2 separate regions of the Homo sapiens genome follow, and region 2 is linked to region 1. Evidence: fine-mapped expression QTL. A gene starts in region 1. The other region holds a variant in brackets. All regions are shown on one strand. Distances are between the middles of the regions.

Evidence for each region. PIP is the estimated chance that this variant, and not a neighbour inherited with it, causes the effect.
Region 2: its variant is fine-mapped to the expression of MCOLN1 in spleen (GTEx, PIP 0.99).

What each region holds. Positions count from the first base shown.
Region 1 is chr19:7,520,822-7,523,726 of GRCh38, forward strand. MCOLN1 (mucolipin TRP cation channel 1) reads left to right here and starts at 1,803. Exons shown (of 14, transcript NM_020533.3): 1 at 1,803-1,960. The coding sequence starts at 1,930. LOC105372261 (a long non-coding RNA gene) reads right to left here. Exons shown (of 3, transcript XR_936294.3): 2 at 2,021-2,341. ZNF358 (zinc finger protein 358) reads left to right here. Exons shown (of 2, transcript NM_018083.5): 2 at 1-204. The coding sequence ends at 128. RefSeq lists a silencer at 1,837-1,966.
Region 2 is chr19:7,473,180-7,476,084 of GRCh38, forward strand. It overlaps a transcript of ARHGEF18 not described here. Among named protein-coding and RNA genes, the nearest start is that of PEX11G, 14 kb to the right of the region's middle. RefSeq lists a silencer at 1-25. The variant G/A (reference allele first, on the strand shown) is at 1,491.

The DNA.
Region 1 (2,905 bases):
ATCCCAACCCTGTGTCCTGCCCTGACCCCTGTTCTCCCACTCGTGGCACTGTCAGCCCAGCCCTCCCTACCGGCGAGAGTCCAGAGTGGGTACAGGAGCAAGGGGCACTGCTGGGGCCTGATGGCTGAAGGAGACGCCGGCATCCTCGGGGGCCTGGGGAAGTTGTGTGTTGTGCAGTCAGTAAAATCCTCCCACTGCCTCCGGGCTCTGTGTCGTGGCTTGCCTTTTGTGCTTTCTTTCTGAGCACAGCCCCTTGCTCCGGAGATGGGACATTGTGGCCAGGGCCAGCCACAATCTGGAGCTCCAGTGTCCTGGCTTCCTTCTTGGGCCCACCAGCTAGACTTTCCAGCTTAACCCACAGTGTCTCATCCTGGTCCATCCCACTAGTCACCACTCTCTGTTCCTCTCACTTACCCCTTGCTCTTCAAAGCCCATACAGTAGGTATACAAGTGGACAAAAAAAGTTGCTCATTTATGCAATCAACAAACATCTCTGGATTGCTGGGGTCTCAGCAGGGAACAAGATAAATATGGCCTCGACCTGCATGGAGCTCATAGATACTAAATTCAGAATACTTAAAAAATAATTACGGGGTATAGTACATTCTAGGAGAAGCATAACAAGACTTCTGATATAAATGGCAGGCAGCTTTCTCAATGAAGGATTTTGTAATCCCAATAATCACTAATTTAATAATCAGTACTGTTTGCCCAGCCTTATGCGATAGTTTTTGCATTCTCTCATTTAATCCTCTCAACAGCCCCAGTAGGTAGATGACTTTGAATATCCCCATTTTGCAAATGAGAAAATTGAGGCACATTTTTTTTTTTTTTTTTAGACAGTCTTGCTCTGTTGCCCAGGCTGGAGTGCAGTGGTGTGATCATAGCTCACTGCAGCCTCGACCTCCTGGGCTCAAGCGATCCTCCCACCTTAGCCTCCCGAGTAGCTGGGATTGCCGGTGCATGCCACCGCCCACTGCGCTCAGCTTGGAGTTGAAGGGACTCTGGAAGATGTAGAAGTGGCATTGTCAGTGCCTAGATTTAAATCCCAATTGCCCTCCAGGGTCCAAATTCTTAACCATTACGCTCCAGGGCAAAAGTATGCAAAGGCTCTGGGGCTATAGAAAGATGAGCTTTGGATGGAGGTAGGAGCCAGATCAGAGGGCCCTGATAGACGAGAGTGGGGACTCTGCCTGTCATTACAGAGCAATGGGAAGCCGAGGGCAGGTTCTCGCAGGAAGGATAGGAATTATTCTTTGAAGATGCTTGTGGCTGCTGGGTAGAGAGTGGAGTGGAGGGAGGCTGAGATCGGGGAGGAGGTTGCTGCAAAGATCCAGGCCAGGAATGTTGGAAGACTCTGGGCTGGGGGCCATGGGGTGGGGATAAGTGGTTCTATTTGATACATAATTAGGAAATCGTGTTTGCTGAAGATGCGCAGGAGAAGGGTAAAAGGAGTTTCTGGGAGAAAGAGGAAGACAGCGTTGAGATAGTAGGCAGGGTCATCACCAGGCACCAAGGAGGATAAGGGGTCAAGCTCTGGACATGGAAGTCACAAGCCTGGCACCGGATTCGGGGCATGGCCGGGAGCCAGGGCAGAGCTCGTCGTTGCCAAACTCAGAGTCAGCCCATCCCCCGCCACCCAGAGCGCGTCGGCGCTAGGACCTAGCGACTGCCTTCGACCCAGAGGGCGCCGGCAGAGGCACGCATGCGCGCTGTTCCGGCAGGGGTTGTCGTGGCGCAGGGGGCGGGACCAGAGGCGGTCACGTGAGGGGCTCTGGGCTACCGGGTCACGTGACCGAGGCACAGATCAGCTGATGCCGGAGGGTTTGAAGCCGCGCCGCGAGGGAGCGAGGTCGCAGTGACAGCGGCGGGCGATCGGACCCAGGCTGCCCCGCCGTACCCGCCTGCGTCCCGCGCTCCCGCCCCAGCATGACAGCCCCGGCGGGTCCGCGCGGCTCAGGTGAGGGCGCGGGCGGCACCGTGGGGCCCCGAACTCAGGCGGGCGGGCTGTGTCTCCCACCTGGGGCGGCGGAGCTCCTAGTCTCTTTTTTTCTAAGCTCCAGCGCTGACTTTTCACGGTGGAGAAAAGGGCAGACGGCTCCTAGAACTTGGGCGGCGGGTGGGCACCAGCCTCTCCAATTCTTCCTCCTGAACCCAGGCTCTGCTGGGTTCCCAAACTCAGGCAGGGATCGCGCCGGGCCGCCAGCTTCTCCCTCTGGGGCGGCGAGGTTCCTGGGATTCCCACTGGGAGCCTAGGTTCCGATTGCTCAACTTCGTCTGGAACTCAGACAGCGGGCACCAGCTTCTCCAACCCGCACGTGAGACTCCCAGGCTTCCCCTCCTGATTCCAGGGGACAAATGCTCAGCTTCCCTAAGCTCAAGCCTGGAGAGCTGGAGGGATTGCCCCCAGGCGATTAACTCAGTTTTAGCTTTCCAAACCGCTGGAAGCGCAGCCTTCTTAAATTCGGGCTTCTAGCCAATTCTGATGCCACCCCTCCTCGGGGAGGCTGGAGGAAGACCCCTTGTGTTAGCTTCCCCTTCTGGAGCTAGCTGGGGACCCCTACCTGATAGATGTCCCGGTGTCCCAGCTAGTAGGGTCTGGGGTGGGTTAGCTGTAATCTCAGCTCTGTAAGCGGGCCCTGCCCTCTGGCTTTGTCGTAAACAGCCACAGCAGCATCTCATTGCAAAGGGAGGGGCCGGGAACTTGTCCCTCTCTGCAAGGGAGGTTCTGACAGTGCACACATTTATCCTGACTGCTTTGCTAGGCAGGAGGCCAGGCCCTAGAAAGCAGCACGGGGCCAGGCCCTAGAAAGCACATCCCCATGGGGGTGTGACAGGGACAGTTTTGGGCTACTGTGACTGGTTTTGACTCCAGCAGTTGCTGAAAGCTTAGATCTAACCATTA
Region 2 (2,905 bases), 48 kb before region 1:
AGTCCCGGTCCAGTGAGGCGAGGACCCTGCTGTTTCAACAGAGGGTTTCCCATCACAAGGGGACTAGGTGTAAAGTCGATCACTAGCTCACTAGGAAGCGCAAAAAGGGAACTCTCAGGCAGCACTGTCCACCAGGAAGATGATGCAGGCCACGTGTGGAATTTTTCATTTTTAGTAGCCATATTAAAAAAGTAAAAGGAGGGCCGGGCACAGTGGCTCATCCCTGTAATCCCAGCATTTTGGGGAGGCGGGGGCTGAGGCAGGAGGATAGCTTGAGCCCAGGAGTTCAAGACCAGCCTGGGCAACATAGTGAAACCCCTTCACAGAAAAATTAAAAAATTAGCCAGGTTGGCCGGGCGCAGTGGCTCACGCGTGTAATCCCAGCACTTTGGGAAGCCAAGGTGGGCAGATTACGAGGTCAGGAGATCGAGACCATCCTGGCTAACAAGGTGAAACCCCGTCTCAACTAAAAATACAGAAATTAGCCGGGCGTGGTGGCGGGCGCCTGTAGTCCCAGCTACTCGGGAGGCTGAAGCAGGAGAATGGCGTGAACCCAGGAGGCGGAGCTTGCGGTGAGCCGAGATTGCGCCACTGCACTCAGCCTAGGCAATAGAGCGAGACTCCGTCTCAAAAAAAAAAAAAAAAAAAAAAAAATTAGCCAGGTATGGTGGCGTGCACCTGTAATCCCAGCTACACAGGAGGCCAAGGCAGGAGGATTGCTTGAGCCTAGGGGTTCAAAGTTGCAGTGAGCTATGATCGTGCCACTGCACTCCAGCCTAGGCAACATGGTGAGACCCTGTCTATAAGAGCTTAAAAAAAAAAAAGGAAATTTGGGGGATAGAAAAAAGAAATGAAATTTAAAAAAAAAAGAAAAAAGGGCTGGACGCAGTGGCTCACGCCTGTAATCCCAGCACTTTGGGAGGCCGAGGCAGGCAGATCACCTGAGGTCCGGAGTTTGAGACCAGCCTGGCCAACATGTTGAAACCCCATCTCTACTAAAAACACAAAAATCAGCCGGGCGTGGTGGCAAACACCTGTAATTCCAGCTACTCTGGGGGCTGAGGCAAGAGAAGCGGTTGAACCCGGAGGCGGAGGTTGCAGTGAGCCGAGACTGCACGATTGCACTCCAGCCTGGGGGACAACAGTGAGACTTCGTCTCAAAAAAAAAAGAAAAAAAGGATGTAATTAATTTATTACATTTTTATTTATTTTTTTGACATGGAGTCTTGCTCTGTCACCCAGGCTGGAGTGCAGTGGCACGCTATCTTGACTCACTGCAACCGCCGCCTCCCAGGTTCAAGTAATTATCCTGCCTCAGCCTCCCGAGTAGCTGGGATTACAGGCACCCACCATCATGCCCGGCTAATTTTTGCATTTTTGTAGAGATGGGGTTTCACCATGTTGACCAGGCTGGTCTTGAACTCCTAATCTCAGGTGATCTGCCTGTCTCGGCCTCCCAAAGTGCTGGGATTACAGGCGTGAGCCACCGC[G/A]CCTGGTCTATTTTTTCTTCATTGTGGTCAAATGCACACAACATAAAACTGGCCAGTTGCTATTCTCCTGATGGTGGGCATTGGAGTGTGTGTGTGTGTGTGTGTGTGTGTGTGTCTCCCCCCACCCTCTGATTTGCTCCACCCCAACCCCAGCCGTCCTCTGACCTCTGCCTAGCTGACCCCTCCACTGGGATGCCCCCAGCCTTCCTCAGCACTCCTTATGGGCCCTGGGGGGCTTGGAGGCACCCTAAAATGAGATGTTCTGCAAAGAGGGCCTGTAGTGGCTGGGCACGGTGGCCCACGCCTATAATCCCAGCACTTTGGGAGGCCGAAGTGGGTGAATCACTTGAGCACAGGAGTTCAAGACCAGCCTGGGCAACGTGGTGAAACCCCGTTTCTACTAAAAATACAAAATTAGCCAGGCATGCTTGGGCGTGCCTGTAGTCCCAGCTACTCGGGAGGCTGAGGCAGAGAATTGCTTGAACCCAGGAGGCGGAGGTTGCAGTGAGCCGAGATCGCGCCACCGCACTCCAGCCTAGGCGACAGAGTGACTCTGTCTCAAAAAAGAGGGCCCGTAGTCTTTAAGGTTCACAAAGGGGTCTGTTCCCAGCCCCTAAAAGGTTGAAAACCACTGGACCAGAATGGGCAACCCAGGGACAGAGTAGTGGTCACCAAGCCTGGGGGCTGCGGGTGGGTAACAGCTGAGGGGTGTGAGGTTTCTCTCTGGGGTGATGGAATGTTCTAAGGTTGACTGTGGCTCTGCTTGCACGACTGTGAATGTACTAAAAGCCACTGAACTGTCCCCCTTCTGTGGATAAATTTTATATGTGAATTATATTTCCATAAAACTGTTTAAACACACACACACACACACAACCACACACACACACAACCACTGGACCAGCTGAGAGAGTGGGAGAGCGGCCTCCCTTTCTGGAAGCATCCAACCTGTCTGCTCTGTGCCTGGGCTCCACATGGTCAGTGTCCAAGGCCTTCCCAGCCCAGGCTGTATCCCTGAAGGTGGCTTGCTTTTCCTCCTGGCACCTGTGACCAGGTGGTCATGTGGCTTCCCCACACAGAGGCGCTGCTCCAAGGGCCCCACTGGTATGAGCTAGTAAGTAGTTGGGTCTCCAGGTAGACAATGAGATGCCCTAATCATGCAGGTGCTGCTAGGGGCTGGGAAGGAGGCCTCTGCTGAGGGCCAGGACAGGCCTGCACCCCCGACAAGGGAAAGAAGGGGGAAACCCACCAAGCCTGGCCCACTCGTGAGTCCTGGGCAGAAGGAGCCCCCACAGATGGGGTCTCCCGCACCCGTGTGACCCTGAGCAGTCCCCGGCCTCCCAGCTGCTCAGAGCCACCTGGTATCTTCCTTGTAAAAAACAAACCACAAATGTACTCTGGGAGGCCGAGGCAGG